2 separate regions of the Homo sapiens genome follow, and region 1 is linked to region 2. Evidence: fine-mapped expression QTL. A gene starts in region 2. The other region holds a variant in brackets. All regions are shown on one strand. Distances are from middle to middle.

Region 1 (8,559 bases), 34 kb before region 2:
GTAGAGATGGGGTTTCACCATGTTGGCCAGGCTGGTCTCAAACTCCTGACCTCAGGTGATCCTCCCGCCTTGGCCTCCCAAAGTGCTGGGATTACAGGTGTGAGCCACTGCACCCGGCCCTGAATCATGCTTTCTAAACCTTTAGAGACTCAGTTTTCTCATCTATAAAATGGGAATGATAACAATACTATCCCATTGGATTGTTAATTGAATTAACAATTATAGAATGCTTAGAACAGTGACTGGCACACAGCAATTAAGCACCATATAAGCATTGGTCAAATATATTTTCCAAAGTTAAGTGTAACATAATTAACAAATTCTAGAACTTCTTTAAATAATCAACGGAATAATTCCCAAAGCCCATTCGACCAATTTTTCCACATTCTAACCCACTATTCTCTCAACCCTACTTCTAGGCTGCCTCTGAGCTTTGCATATAAGCTTTGTGCTTATTAACCCTGCAGTGCAATTATTTGTTTATTGTCTGGCACAAGAAGGAGATCAACAAATGCTTGTAAAGTAAATGGATAGATATTTGATTTGTCATTATTTCCAAATCTTTCTCAAAGCCCAGATATTTCTTTGTTTTTCTCATGCATTTTCCTCCTTGTATTGTTAAAGAACAGAATATGCTACCCCAAAATATGACTATGAAGTAATTCGGGATGTGCCACCCAAAAATATGCCACTCTTTGATTATTTTAAGCTGAAGGCATTTGAAAAACAGCAAATTCAGGGAGAGGCTTTCTCTGAACTCTGCTTATCTGCTTAAAGACAGATCTTCCAAAAGGATCTCAATTGTCATAAATCCCCTCTCCAGGAAATTTTATCAACCAGAGAAGACTGACTCTTCTCACAGCAGAGGAGACTAGAAGTTGACACTAAATCCAGAAAAACGTTGTCCCAAACGATCATATCTCCTATCTCTTCTTCTACTGCCCCTCATCTTTCCTAAATACCATTTACTCTCCACGTGACCTATATCTGCCTCCCCTTACCCTTTTAAGATAGTATATAAGCTTTCAAATCTCACTGCTTTTCGAGTACTCACTTTCTTTTTCTGTGATGACCCATGCATATAATATTTAAAATTCATACTTTTGTATATCTTTAAGAAATATTATTTTAGATTCAGGGGGTACATGTGCAGGTTTGTCACATGGATGTATTACATAATGGTGAGGTTTGGGCTTCTAGTATACCCATCACTCAAATAGTGAACACTGTACACAATAGGTGATTCTCCAATTCTCACTCCCTTCCTGCTCTCCCTGCTTTTGGGGTCTGCAGCATCTATTATTTTCATCTTTATATCCGTGTATACCATTGTTTAACTTCCTCTTATAAGTGAGAACATGCAGTATTTGATTTTCTGTTTCTGAGTTATTTCACTTAGGATAATGACCTCAGGTTCACCCATGTTGCTGTAAAGGACATTATTTCATTCTTTTTTATGGCTGTCTAGTATTCCATGGTGTACACATACACATTTTCTTTATCCATTTAACCATTGATGGACATTTAGGTTGATTCCATGACTTTGCTACTGTGAATAGTGCCACCATAAACATATGAGTGTGGGTGTCTCTCTATATAATGATTTATTTTCCTTTGGGTAGATAACCAGTCATGGGGTTGCTGGGAAGAATGGTAGTCCTACTTTTAGTTCCTTGAGAAATCTCCATACTGTTTTCCATAGAGGTCATACTGATTTAACATTTCTACCAACAGTGTATAAGCATTCTCTTTTCTCTGCATCCACACCAACATCTGTTGTTTTACTCTGGAAAAAACCCAAAAAAATTCAGGCATCTGAAAATAGGTATTGTTAAAGAAAAAAATTATTCAATGACACTTGTCATAGCACAGTAAGGCAGACTTTATTCAGGTCCACCGCAATAGGTATGGGGACCACAGCGATGGGGTATTGCAGTGAAGGAGAGAGACTGGGCTCAACTCTGAGTACAGCATGGGCAAGTGGGACCATAGAGCCAAGGAGCAGGGTAGGGGTCAGCAAATGGAAAAATTACCAAGAGGGAATCTCTGGGGTAAGGTGAATTCAGGCTAAACTGACTTAGCAGGGGTCTTGCGAAAACTGGATTTTACATGGAAGTGCACAGATGGGCCTAGAAGAATATTCAGAAGGCTGAGTAGAGTTTGGCCAAGCAAAGATTCTTTGTCTGTATCTATGAGGCCTCTAAAAAGGAAAGCAGAGTAAGCTCGGAATAATTTTTAAATGATTCCAAAAAAATAGGTGCATGGAGACTAGATTTTTATAAAGGTCAACAGCTTTGAAAACTTCATTCTGTTAAAATCAAGATAATCAGTTTCCCAAGTGATCTCTAAGAATAATATAGGAAGTCATGGGGCTGAATAATAATAATAGTAGTAATAATTAGTGGTCACCCCCAAAAAGTAGGTGCATGGAGCTTCTACATATCTTTTGTAAAGAGGTGGGAGTCACAGAAATGAATGACACGAAAATTGTGAGATAGGCAGGAAGTCGCACTCCTAGGTACTGAGGACGTTCTCTGCACTGACACACCTTAGCAGACCTTCAGACAGACTTAATGGGGAAGCCAAAGAAGCTTATGCTCAGGGCCCATCACTTTCACAGGGTACCTTGCAAGGCCCTTGGAGAGGCTCTAGCAATTTTATATTCTTAATTTTATATTATTTTGAGGAGAGTAATTTTAGTGAAGTATGTGTAACATTGTATAAAGAAAAATGGACAATTTTGCATTATTCTGTTATTGAGCAAATGGTCTCACTGCTTGATGTAATTAGAAGCCATACTACGGCACCAGCTTTTGAGATAAAAAACAATTCATTGAGAGGCTGACACAGAAGGCATGGCTGAAATCTGTCTCCCAAATTTGAGTCTGCGGCAAGTTTCAAGGGATTGGAAGGCAGAAAGGATTTTGGTGTGGTAAGGTCTGATTGGAGAGCTTCAAATGTGACTATTTTTGGTAAGGTACGTTGAGGCTGATTTTAGCCCTGGATCTTCCTGGCCGTCAGACCCCCTCGCTTTTGAAATGGTTCTGATGTTCAGGTTCTGGTTGTGTCCTGGTCTTCCTGGTTCCGTGGGGAGGAATTGTTGGTTTTGGATGTCAGAGGTCAAATCTTTCCTATTGTACATGCCTGGGCCATATGACTTGCAGTCTTGGCTCTGTTATATCTACAAGGTACTTAGACATTCTATTATCAATAGAGTAGGCCCAGTTTGAGATGCTCCTGTGGTTACTACCATTCTTCCTGGAGAGGACCGCTTACAGCCTCCCAGCCCCAGTTGTGTAAGTTTCCCACAAACCTGCATCAGCCTCAGCTGGATTGTGCTTCTGCAGAGAAACCCTTGTACTCCCTTCTCTCTCCCCTATTCCGGCCGTGAAAGCAGGTTCTGCTTACCAAAGTCCTCTGAGTTCTGAGCGGTTTTGGATTCTGGTTTGTTCTTTGATAAAGACATAAATGACAGGACAATTGTTTCCTTGGGCTGGAGTAATGAGCTCACATTCTCAACATTAAACTTAAAAGAAATAAATATTTAAAAATCTAGCATTCGTGTTACAAAATAAAGGCATAAGATATGAGAAACTTGGCTACAGTATCATCTGTGAAGAAAATAATTGTTTTGTTTCACTCTGTACTCAAAGTGTCAATAGTGCTAATGAGGTTATTAAAAAGCTCTCGAGTTCCCACCACACGTAGAGTCACCAGGCAAGCAGGAAGGGTCCACTGCGTTCTGGGAACCTGTTTCCTGAGGGTTAAAAGCATAATTTTCAGAAATGTAAAATCACAAAAATAAAATAAATGTGTCAAATATTTTATTTAACTCATTAATTAAAAACCATTTAAAATGAGATTTTGATTTGCAGAGATTTATATTCTCTGCCAGACAAAATTCATTTGCATTGTCATGCACGGGTATCATTTGCATAGCTATGGGCAGGAAACATTTGCATCGTTATCCATTTTCTATAACTTAAACCCTATTCCAACAGAGTTGTAAAATAGCCTAGTCAATCACAGGCAATTGAAAGTGCACGTCCTGTGGAATTAGAGAATCCCAGAGGGTCTGCTAACAATGTCCTGCCCTCCACTGAAAGGACACCAGGAATCACTTTGGTCTGTTTCTAAGACTTGGACCATTTTTTTACGTGAGATATATTATGAAGAGAAGAATGTTTATCCAGAGTGTAACCAGGAGAGCAGAAGCTCTTGAAATTATGTATTAATATTATGTGGACACACGATAGGACCAGGAATATTTTCAGCCGGGCAAAGATGAGATGCACTGTGGACAGTGATCCAAGTTATAAAATACTAAAGAACTGTCATGAAGCAAAGCGCTGTCCTTATTTTGTGTAGTTCCAGAGGTCAGAACCAGAGTAAACGGGGTTGGGGGTAGGGGTAGGAGGGGGTAAGAAGCTACAGCAAAGCAGATCTTAATATATGAAAAACTTATTAAGAAATGGGAGTTTTGGGCCAGGTGTGGTGGCTCATGCCTGTAGTCCTAGCACTTTGGGAGGCTCAGATGGGTGGATCACTTGAGGTCAGGAGTTCAAGACCAGCTTGGCCAACACAGTGAAACCCTGTCTCTACTGAAAAAAAAAAAAGAATTAGCCGGGCGTGGTGGCATGTACCTGTAATCCCAGCTACTTGGGAGGCTGAGGCAGGAGGATCACTTGAACCTGGGAGGTGGAGGTTACAATGAGCCTAGATCATGCTAAAACACTTCAGCCTGGGTGACAGAGGGAGACTCTGTCTCAAAAAAAAAAAAAAAAAGAAAAAGAAAAGAAAAAGAAATAGAAGTTTTGATTTGTGGGTTCTCTGTCA[T/C]TGAAAATGTTCAAGCAGAAGTTATATAATCTTTTATAGGAATGTGAAAGGAAAATATCTTGGGCCCATGAGGGAAGGCAGGTAACTCCTTTATGGAGTTTAAGCTCACTTCCAACAGAGAAGATGAGTGTGTGTGTGTGTGTGTGTGTGTGTGTGTGTTGTTGTTGTTGTTGTTTTTCCTGCTTCTAGGATGGTAGAGAGCAGTCTTCTGCCTGAAACCCATTCCTAGATAAGTAACTGAATTAGGGTTTAGCTTGGCTAAAGTTAAGATTAACAACCAACTGGTCTACATGTCAGAGGCATTTGAACCAGAGCAACTCCATCTTGAGTAGAGGCTGGGTAAAATGAGGCTGAGACCAATTGGGCTGGATTTCCAGATGGTTGGGCATTCTAAGTCACAAGATGAGATAGGAGGTCAGCACAAGACAGATCATAAAGGCCTTGCTGATAAAATAGTTTGCAGTAAAGAAGCTTGTCAAATCCCACCAAAACCAAGATGGTAACAAAAGTGACCTCTGATCGTCCTCACTGCTACACTCACATCAGTGCCATGACAGTTTGTAAATGCCATGGCAATGTAAGGAAGTTACCCTATATGATCTAAAAAGGAGAGGCATGAATAATCCACCCCTTGTTTAGCACATAATGAAGAAATAACCATAAAAATGGGCAACCAGCAGCCCTCAGGGCTGCTCTGTCTGTGGAGTAGGCATTCTTCTACTCCTTTCTTTTTTTTTTTTCCTTTTTTTTTTTGAGATGGAGTCTCACTCTGTCACCTGGGCTAGAATGCAGCGGTGTGATCTCAGGTCCATGCAATTTCTGCCTCCCTGGTTCAAGCGATTCTCCTGCCTCAACCTCCCGAGCAGCTGAGACTACAGGCACGTGCCACTACACCTGGCTAATTTTTGTATTTTTAGTAGAGACGGGGTTTCACCATATTGGCCAGGCTGGTCTCAAACTCTTGACCTCAGGTGATCTGCCCACCTTGGCCTCCAGAGTGCTGGGATTACAGGTGTCAGCCACTGCGCCCAGCCTACTCCTTTATTTTCTTAATAAACTTGCTTTTATGTTACTCTATGGACTAACCCTGAATTCTTTCCTGCACGAGATCCAAGAACCCTGTCTTGGAGCCTGGATCTGGCCCCCTTTCCTGTAACATGAATTTCTCCTTACCATTAGAGGGTTCAGTGATCATGTTGTTGGGGCTTTGTTGTTTGTTCCCATTTAAAGTTGTTGTTTAAGGATCCTAATTCTAGTTTGGAGATGCATTTGAAAGGTCTTCTCTATTGCTTTTTGTCCCAAATTTTTAATCTTAATTGAGTTTGTCTGTGTGCATTTGCATGAGGAACTAAACTGTTGTTTTGATATGTTAATGAGAGACTGAGTTTTCTTAGCCCTGAAGAGAAGGGGCATTTTGCTCCTTCCAGCTGAAAGGCTTCCCTGGGTGACCGGGGGCCCCATGGGAGTGTCTGGGAGGTTGACCACCCCATGACGTGCAGCAGCCCTGCAAGGGAATCCCCAACAAAAATTAATTTTATAAATGGCTCATCTAGGTAACACATGTAAGGGCTAATCATCTGGTGTTTTGAGCCCTCTCTGAGGTCACAGACCTCTGGAGGGAGAAACTGAGACATATAAAAGGGTTGAAACTACTCAGTGGTGACACACTGTGGAGTCCTGCCCACAAGCAGCACATGTTGATCCACCACACAAAAACCATGGACCATAGCTCAGTTCCTCCCTTAAAAAAAAAAAAAAAGAAAGAAAAAAAATGGGAAACAATCTAAGAATGATGAGAAAACAAGGAGAATGACCCCCTTTTGAGCAGTCTGTAGGTTTTATGGCACCTCTACTTGCCAAAATAATATGGTCTTTGTGCACATTTACATTAAGGAAAAAAGAGCCCTTGGCTGGGCGTGGTGGCTCACCCCTGTAATCCTAGCACTTTGGGAGGCTGAGGTGGGTGGATCTCCTGAGGTCAGGAGTTCAAGACCAGCCTGGCCAACATGGCGAAATCCCATCTCTACTAAAAATACAAAAATTATCCGGGCATGGTGGTGCATGCCTGTAATCCCAGCTACTCAGGAGGTGAGGAAGGAGAATCACTTGAACCCAGAGATGGAGGTTGCAGTGAGCCGAGATCACGCTGTTGCACTCCAGCCTGCGTGACAGGAGTGAGACTCCATCTCAAAAAACAAAACAAAACAAAACAAAAGCCCTAAGTGTCAGGCCTCTGAGCCCAAGCTAAGCCATCATATCCCTTGTGACCTGCACGAATGCATCCAGATGGCCTGAAGAAAGTGAAGAATCACAAAAGAAGTAAAAATGGCTGGTTCCTGCCTTAACTGATGACATTCCACCATTGTGATTTGTTCCTGCCCCACCTTAACTGAGCAATTAACCTTGTGAAATTCCTTCTCCTGGCTCAGAAGCTCCCCCACTGAGCACCTGGTGACCCCCCACTCTGCCCACCAAAGAACAACCCCCTTAGACTGTAATTTTCCACTACCCACCCAAATCCTATAAAACGGCCCCACACCTATCTCATCTCCCTTCACTGACTCTCTTTTCGGACTCAGCCTGCCTGCACCCAGGTGATTAAAAAGCTTTATTACTCACACAAAGCCTGTTTGGTGGTCTCTTCACACGGACGCTCTTGACATTTGGTGCCATGACTTGGATCGGGAGACCTCCCTTGGGAGATCAATCCCCTGTCCTCCTGCTCTTTGCTCCATGAGAAAGATGCACCTGTGACCTCAGGTCCTCAGACCAACCAGCCCAAGGAACATCTCACCAATTTTAAATCAGGTAAGTGGCCTCTTTTTATTCTCTTATCCAGCCTCTCTCACTATCCCTCAACCTCTTTCTCCTTTCAATCTTGGCACCATCCTTCAATCTCTCCCTTCTTTTAATTTCAGCTCCTTTCCTTTTCTGGTAGAGACAGAGAAGATGTGTTTTATCCATGAACCCAAAACTCTGGCGCCAGTCACGGACTCAGGAAGACAGTCTTCCCTTGGTGTTTAATCACTGCGGGGAGGCCTGCTTGATTATTTACCTACGTTTCAGAGGTGTCTAATCACTGCAGGGACACCTGCCTTGATCCTTCACCCTTAGTAGCAAGCACCACTTTCCTGGGGGGCAAGCACCCCCCACCCCTTCTCCCATGTCTCTACCCTCTCATCTCTGGGCTTGTCTCCTTCACTATAGGCAACCTTCCACCCTCCATTCCTCCTTCTTCTCCCTTAGCCTGTGTTTTCAAGAACTTAAAAGCTCTTCAACTCACACTTGACCTAAAACCTAAACACCTATTTTCTTCTTGACCGCTTGACCCCAATACAAACCCGACAATGGTTCCAAATAGCTAGAAAATGGCACTTTCAATTTCTCCATCCTACAAGATCTAGATACTTCTTGTCATAAAATGGGCAAAAGGTCTGAGGTGCCTGACGTCCAGGCATTCTTTTACACATTGGTCCCTCCCTAGTCTCTGTTCCCAATGTAACTAATCCCAAATCTTCCTTCTTTCCCTCCTGCCTGTCCCCTCAGTCCCAACCCCATGTGTCACTGAGTCTTTTCAATCTTCCTTTTCTACCGACTCATCTGACCTCTCCCCTCCTCCCCAGGCTGCTCCTCCTCAGGTCGCTTACCGTCAGGCTGAATCAGGCTCCAATTCTTCCTCGGCCTCCGCTTTCCCACCCTATAATCCCTCTATCACCTCCCCTC
Region 2 (8,559 bases):
TAAATATTCCTATTTCAGCATAAGTCATTTTGGTGCTGAATTCATGTAGGGCCTCAGGCATAATTCGCATGGTCTGAGAGAGGGGAAGAGAGCTGCGGTCCATGTTCCTTAGAGAAGATGGGGATTTTCTATGGATAAGGGCTTTCTCATTCTGCCATGAAGTGGTAAGGGCCCTAGCTGGGGTTAGGGCGTCCAAGAAATTGGTGAGGTGAAGATAAGAGCACTGTACTAGACTGTTTGGTTTCTTTGCAGGCCAGAGATACTTTTTTTTTTTCTTTGAAGAAAAAGATAAAGGCAAAAACAGCATTTGAGCAAATAAAAATTATCCTTGAACTCACCTTTACTTGATGGGCTACTATGTCTGTTTTTGATAACGCCTAAATCTTTCTTCTAGGAAATGGCACGTGCCACCTCTACTCATATTTAATTCGTCAAAGAAGTCACATGGTCAAGCAGTGAAGGGGCAGCAAATGATAGAGACAATGATGTCATCTCCAATGACTACATGGAGCCCTAGTCGTTTGTTTCTGAAGATAAAAGACCAAGAAGAGGTCAAAAAAAAGGAGGCTCGTAAATGTAACTTTAAGCAGGTGAAATAAAAGATTAATCAGTTGAAAAAAGTAATTTAAAAGGAAGAAGTAAATTTTTTTATCAACAAAGTTTGAAACCTTCAGAAATCAAAATATATATAATGAAGAAAATTTTGCTGTCTTTCCTGACAAAAGAAAAACTAGACATAAGGAATTAAACAACCATAGGAAAAAGTGCCTTACCTGAGACATAAGCCTAGAGAAGTGCTTATTTTTAGTGTATCTGAATTGGTTTTGGCAGTCACAGATGGCATTTAAGGGAGCAAATAGATCCGCAATGAGCACTTGCATGATTCGGCATCTTTGTTCACACCTGGAATGTTATTTGCTCACATGCTGCCCACCCAAACTCTGCCCATTTCCTCTAGTTTGCCCCAAATGCCATCTTGTTCAACTTTTCTAAATCATTCCCATTAGTATGAAAATTCCATCTTCCTTAGATGTAGTGGTACCTGCATTTCTATTTAACATATTAATATTGCGTATTGCCTTGTATTATAATTATTTACCCCTCTCCTCCCTCCAGAGAACCATGAGTTCCTTGAGAGCAGAAGAAGTATTTTATTTTTTATTTTTGGTTCTCCCACAGTGCCTAGTCCAGAGCAGCGCACATGAAGGAACCCAATTCATTGCTGTTGAAGTTTATGAATTACAGTTTGTATAGGAGCCACGTGACATGCATATGTTAGCTGTACCCTTGAGGTGATCCCAGAGCATAAGATGCACATAAGAGGAGGTCAAATTTATGACTCTAGGGCCTAGACTCACCGATACAATAAGAAAGCTTTGGTACGGTAGACAAGCAGTGAGGAAAGACAGGAGCGGGCTGTCTAGGTTGTGGACTCTGGGAAGCGACCTTAGTACTTTGGTTCCTCTGACATCTAGATTAGTTTGTCCCTTTTAGATATTTCTATTTATATTCTCTTAGTATCAAATGGTAGTTAGTTATATAGGTCTTAGTTTTAATAAATTGTTCTACTAATATGGTTTGGTCTTAGCTATGCAAGCACTAAATGTGAGCAATATAAAGTTAATTTAAGGGATCAAATATAATATTAGGCTGAAAGCCTATTAAAAATTATAGAGGAATATGTGGAAGACACATTCATAATACAGAGTATGAATATTTTTAGATTCTCTGGTATTGGATTTAGATGTGCTTGTTCTATTTTGTAAAACAAAGAATTGCCCTATATCTTTGATCTGTGTGTTTAGATTTTTTTAGTGACAGACACCTTATAATAACTAGAAATAGAAATTCCATCTTTGGTGGTAATATAGTGCAGGGACCTGAGAAGAGAAGGTCTTAAGGTGCTGTTAATTAGCAAAAATCTGAACCCCACAGTCTCAAAGCAATTAAGGCTGTTAATTGAATATTTGGGTGCTTAGAGGATTGGCTCATATGTGGCTGGACAGGGAACCCTAGGCTTGCATACAGGAGTTACATTCTACAAATAATCATGAACAATTCAGAAGGAGCAAATATAGGCCAATGCTAGTAGTCAACTGCATATTTGAATAGTAATACATTGCTGGCTATATGCAAAATTGTCTTTTTACTGTAAAAGTAAATACTAATAATTCAATCTTTCAGCCTATCTTTTGTAAATATGGCACAGTATTTATTCATGGAAAATTCAGTTTTTTACCATGGTGATTGTACCATCCTCTGGTTTGATAAACATCTCTATGATTCACCTGATATTTTAAACACAGTTGGTGGTCACACAATGGCTACAATGTCATACTTAGGCACATTTGGGGGACAGAGGAGAAAGGCCATTGCTGATGAGCTCAGAGTGGCAGTGCTTTTATTATCCAATTCCTTCATAGCCTTTGTATGGGCTTCCTTAGCTGTGGCATTTAATTAACGTGTGAACATACTTCTAAAAAGAAACTTAAAACAAATAGAAGATTACAAAAAAGTTTTCAAGAAAGGAAAAATAAATGTTCCTTTTAGAAGACCTTCAGTGAAAAGTAGTTAATATTTTCAGTAGTGCTTATTATTTTTAATAGCTCTGGCTTTGGGGTAGGCTTCTGCTTCTGCCAGTCCCAGGCTTGCAAAGATGCAAACGACCGTCCACTAAAGAACACCCAGAATGCAGTGAGTGAAAAATGAATTTAGTTTCTCAAACTGTTTCAGTCCTCTGCACAGTTAAGGAAAAGAGAAATTATATGAATGCTTAAAATCCACCGGTTATCCTCCAAGCTAATGTTGGCCAGTAGTTTTCCATATATTTGGTTAAACCTTCCAGAAAGTGGCAGAATTGAGCGAGTTGAGGGTTCCCCCCACTTCTTTCCATCTCAGTGTACTTTCTGGAGCAGTTTGTAATTTTTTTTTTTTAAAAGCTATGAAGTGTCTTTTTAAAAAGTGGAGGTGCTTAGCAGGCAGTAAAGGATATGAGCACTGAAACTAAACATTCCCAAACGGATCATTTCCATCCTTATTTGAGGAATTATGCATTCATAAGGCTGGTGTGATTTAGGAACAGGTTATTCAAAGTGCAAATAGATATCTTCATGAATGACCAGAGCATATAAAAAACAAATTGTACTTAAGGTCCTAACTCGAGTTTATTGTGCACATATATCTTCTAAAAATGTGGAGTTAACCTACTTAGGGGTTACTGACCAGGGCTTTTAAAAGGCACAGGAACAGAGGGCTGAAGTCGTTAACACTAGACTGAGAAGCACGTTTAAGGGTAACAATGCCACCTCTTTGGATCAGAAGAGTTCCTGTTTGTTATGCAATGTGTGCACTTCATTATTTACACGATTTCACTAGGTGAATGGGAGCTGTGTACACAGCCAGGTGAGCCTGCAGCAGCGCCCCAGACTCTGACAGCGAACACCCTCTGTCTACTGCCTTCTGCTAGCCCTGCTTTGAAACAATACCCTTTTCTGGAAAAAAAAAAAAAAAAAACACAACCCTAAATCATAGCTACTTCTCTAGATAACAACCATTTTCTTTTCTTAAACGTTTTTAGGAATTAATAGAACTTTCTTGGAAAAATTTCCAAACTCGTTTCCACTGCGCTGAACGGACGATTTAAAAAGTAAATACTCAGAAGATACTAAGAAGATTCCGCTGGAGAGTCTCTTTTTATTGTGTTACGGGGTCTCCTAGCCCTCTCCTTTCTCCTACCCACGGCAGCCCATCTCTCTCCTCCAGGACCCCTTCTTTTTGGTATTTCCTGGAGTACGGATGAAAATGAATAGGTGAGCAGCCTCTGGGCTAGGCCAGGCACACAGGGGTCCCGAGTGACCTTGGGAGACTTGCGGGCTTCTGGAAGGAAGGCTCGGGCGGCCAAGCAGGAGTCGCCGCAGCGAGGAAGCGCCAGGAGGCGGCGGGGGCGACCCCGGGGGAAGGGCGGGCGGGGATGCGCCGAGGTTTCCGTGACTTGGGACTAGTCGCCCCGAGGCGCATTCTAACTGTCGGCTCCCCTGGCCCCAACGGCCAGAGAGAGAAGGGGGCGGATCCTCGCGTACCAGACACGCCCCGGTCGGGTATAAAATTCGCCAGGCGCTCGCTCCCCAGGCCACAGCCGCTCCCTCGCTCTGCTGGGGCCTCCGGACGCGCTTCCCACGCGGGTCTCTGGAACACTCGGTCCGAACGCACGCCTGCTTGCACTCACACTGCGGTTCACACCCGGAGGCGCTCTCGCACTCACACTGCCGCTCACGCGTGCTCACACTCCCCCACGCGCGCTCCGCTCCGGCTCCAGCCCCGCGCCCAGCGAAGGCGCAGGCACTGCTGCCGAGAGCGCCGAGGGGCCCCGCGGCCTTCCCATGGCGGACCTGAGCTTCATCGAAGATACCGTCGCCTTCCCCGAGAAGGAAGAGGATGAGGAGGAAGAAGAGGAGGGTGTGGAGTGGGGCTACGAGGAAGGTAAGTGGCCGCGAGTCGGGGTGTCCGGGGTCCCGCGGCGGCGTCAGTGTCTCGCCGAGCGCGGGACTCGAGTCCTGCTGCCGCTGCGCGCTCCGAGCACCCCCACGCCCCCTCTTTCCCACGGGGGTCTCTGCCACTTTCCCACTCCCCTGGTGCGTTTCGGGCGGGAGGCGCTCCAGGGAGGCGTGCTCGCCGCCTGCGCTCTTCCGCCGCCTGCGCTCTCACCCGGGAGCCTTCCGCAGGGCTGGCGTTCGCACCTGCTGCGGTCCGGAGGGCGGGCTAGCCTCCAAGCCGTGGCTGTACCTTTTATGTCTTCTGAGTAGTCAAGAAGAGCAGCGGTACATTTTACTAAACACCTGAGGAAGACAGTGTTAGCGTGAAGAATTCGTTTTTGGCTTGGAGACTTTGGGGAGAAAGTGTTTCTGCCTCTGGTCTTTTCGTGAAGCCTGCTAGCAATGCTCAAGTCTTTCTAAAACATGTCCTAAATTTCAGACTGAATCATTGGGTTTGGCGAGAAGCGGTTGACTTTCTGAAAAACTCGAGTTTCCTAGATTTATTCCTAAAGACCTAGGGCTCCTATTAGAGCCAACCAGTAGTGCTGATGTTTACTACATATGTTGAAACCAATATAGAATATATAATTTTAATTATAAAAAATTTGGAAAGACTATGGGAATATGTATGTACACAGATATATACATATGCACACTTTAAAATACTACACTTGCATTTCTGATAAGGGGCGTCTATTTACTAGCATGAGAGTTAGGGTTCTGACTGTCACTAAGTATGTTGAAAGTTACAGCTGTTTCCCAGGTACTGAACGTAATTGAACTAATAAGCAGAAGAAATTGTTCTGGTATTCTTTTTTCCTAATCACTTAAAAATGACCCAAATTTCCTAGAATCATAAATTATTATGTCTTTGTTGACAAATACAAATAGAATATTTTGCTAGTCCGGGATTTTGTGTATGGTATTTGATAATAACAGATCATTCAAATAATGAATGCAAAAACAAATAGAATTACCATATTTCATCTGTATAGTGATGGTATCATTACTCTCTTCATGATATCAAGGGTTCTAAGTGTTTAGTTTTTACATGTTAAATTTTACTGTAATTTATTTTTTAACCTGTTTTTAATTTATTTCATTTTGTTCTTAGGTGTTGAGTGGGGTCTGGTGTTTCCTGATGCTAATGGGGAATACCAGTCTCCTATTAACCTAAACTCAAGAGAGGCTAGGTATGACCCCTCGCTGTTGGATGTCCGCCTCTCCCCAAATTATGTGGTGTGCCGAGACTGTGAAGTCACCAATGATGGACATACCATTCAGGTTATCCTGAAGTCAAAATCAGGTATTTTAGAAAATATGTTTGTGTGGTCTTTTAAACTAGAAGTCAGCGTAGAGTTATTGAACTGTGATTTAACTTGCACAATTTAAAAAGTACAACTGACGTATCTCTATTTTCAGGATACCTTTGTATTATAATATAAAGCATTTTTGGGAATTACCTTCTGAAACAATTTTGAAAGGACAAAAGAGTGAAATTATGAAGATTATCAGTCGGTTGTTCTGCTTCTTATGATGTTACTGGAAAAACCTTAGTTTGATCACCTTATACCTTGTGAAATATGAGGACAGGTACATGCAGGTGCAGTAATCTGCGTTTTGTCCAAAATTGTTGATTAGCTTAAATCACTTAGATAATCATAATTCTCTGTTTTGCTACTTTGTGAAACCAAAGATTAGAATTTATTGACATAACGTGGCATTCAAGGTAGACTTCTCAGGTTAATTTTCTCTACTGTATTAGTTTGCCAAAAATAATTTTAACTAATAACAATAAGAAACAGCCTCTAAACTCAGCCAGAGATTTAAATGGTAAACAAACCTCTTCCTTTTATTTATTTATTTATTTATTTATTTAAGTTCCATCCCATGAAACTTCTCCTACCACTTGCAAACCTATTTGAGATGGATCTGAAATGTTCTGTGCAAAAGTTGTTAGGTAATTACCAAGGAAATCAGTTTTTGGCTTTATCGTAGGAAAGAGGAAATCAGATTTTTAAAAAATGTAGCATTAATAGCATGCATTTCATAGTGAATAATAACTGTCTTTTTCTTTTGGGAAAAATTAAAGTATGTTGAAATATTAGGACGTACTTGATAAATAGAGACTGTGCTCGAAAATTAATTCCAAGTTGATAAAGTTGATACCTCAAACTATAAAATCTTTAGGTTTGTTATTAATCAAGGCAGCTGTTGATTTCCAGCTATGGATTTATTTTATTCATTGTAAATGTTTCTAAGCTTTAATTTAGAATCCATGAGATAGTCATAGATTCATGTAGTCTCCTTCGCTGTTCTGAGTTTAGTCAGCATGTGAGCATTGCCCAAAAGAGTTACTGGGCTTTATATGTACTTAGTCAGAGTCAGTTTAAGATGGAAATTTCGACTTGAATTTTTTTGGGGGTGTGGGTTTAGCTTTGATGGGACATTACTTACTGTTTTTTAAAGGATATTGTAAAATTATTGAATGCTGACTGTTCTGGCATATAAAAAGCAATTTAAAGAAGTACATGTGTGTTGATGTGTTGAGATGCTTTGAACTTCCGGAAATAAATGTTTATATATCCACAAAACAAAAATACATTTCATGTCAGGTGCCATGATCAATATTGGTTGCATATAAATTTATAAGACAGTTCTTGAGGATTCATAGCCTAGTGAAAAGCCAGTTCTTTAAAGTACTAGTGTACACTTGATGTGGCAAGTGTTACAAAGGGTTGTGGGAGCAGAGAGCAATGACTAAGCACATATACTCCACTGCATCTGTGTGTGCCTAGTCCTGCTCTGAGATAAAATTTACTTCATCAATTTGAACTTACCATTTTCTTCTGCTACCTTCTCAAACACAATTTTCTTTAATCTTCTGCCTCACTCTAAAACAGAGACTATGGACCAACATCTGGGCCCTCTCACCATGAAGTGTGTTTCTTCCTCACCTAGCATTTTGTGCTTTTCTCTTCCTCCTTCTTCCACCCCTGCCCACTGAAGAAGAAGTGTCTGCACTTCTGTCTAGGCCTGATTTGGATACTCATGATCCAGAACCCTTTTTTCCTGCCTCCCTGGAGACCTTCCTCCTTCAGATTCCCCTTATCCTCTCTGTCATGGTAATAATTTCCTCCTTATTGTTCTTTCCCTTCCAATATTTCTGCAAACTCAAGAAAAGTAACCAAAATAACCATGTCTTGAGTAGTTGTTTTTTCCCCTAGGATATTTAAGCTCCTCAGAGGAACCATTTGTAAGCTCTATATACCCTGTCATTCGCTTATTTAAATAATGTTTTATCTTTATCAAAATAGAATATATACAAAATAGTTGAATAGGCTGGGTGTGATGGCTCACAAGTGTAATCCCAGCACTTTGGGAGGCTGAGGTGGGTGGATCAGTGGAGGTCAGGAGTTCGACACCAGCCTGACCAACATGGTGAAACCCCATCTCTACTAAAAAATCCAAAAATTAGCTGGGCATGGTGGCACACGCCTGTAATCCCAGCTACTTGGGGCGTTGAGGCAGGAGAATCACTTGAACCTGGGAGGCGGAGGTTGCAGTGAGCCGAGATTGCGCCATTGCTCTCCAGCCTGGGCGACAAAAGCAAAACTCCGTCTCAAAAAAAAAAAGGTGAATAATACTCTTTCTGCCTGTGGTTCTTTCTGCCTGTGGTTATCCCCTGCTCTTCCCCACCTACGGCTGCTGTTCCCTAGTAACAACTACTTTGAAACTTTCTAGCTGTTTCTCCTGTGGTTACCTCCAAGAATGTAAGAATATAATAATGCTGTTATGCTTTGGTAGTAAGCTATGTATGAACTCTCTACTATTGAAGACGAGGCCAATTTTCTTTCCTTTTTTTTTTTTTCTTTTGAGACAGAGTCTCGCTCTGTCGCCTAGGCTGGAGTGCAATGGTGCGTCTTGACTCACTGCAATCTCCACCTCCCAGGTTCAAGTGATTCTCTTGCCTCAGCCTCCCCAAGTAGCTGGGATTACAGGCGCCCGCCACCACACCAAGCTAATT

The links.
Region 1: its variant is fine-mapped to the expression of CA8 in whole blood (TOPMed, PIP above 0.99).

The regions. Positions count from the first base shown.
Region 1 is chr8:60,310,510-60,319,068 of GRCh38, reverse strand. The region is part of intron 5 of LOC105375864 (a long non-coding RNA gene); the gene reads left to right. Among named protein-coding and RNA genes, the nearest start is that of CA8, 33 kb to the right of the region's middle. The variant T/C (reference allele first, on the strand shown) is at 4,837.
Region 2 is chr8:60,276,968-60,285,526 of GRCh38, reverse strand. CA8 (carbonic anhydrase 8) reads left to right here and starts at 4,127. Exons shown (of 9, transcript NM_004056.6): 1 at 4,127-4,479; 2 at 5,647-5,838. The coding sequence starts at 4,380. LOC105375864 (a long non-coding RNA gene) reads left to right here. Exons shown (of 7, transcript XR_001745925.1): 7 at 395-562. RefSeq lists a cis regulatory region at 21-667, a silencer at 3,944-4,152 and an enhancer at 4,145-4,651.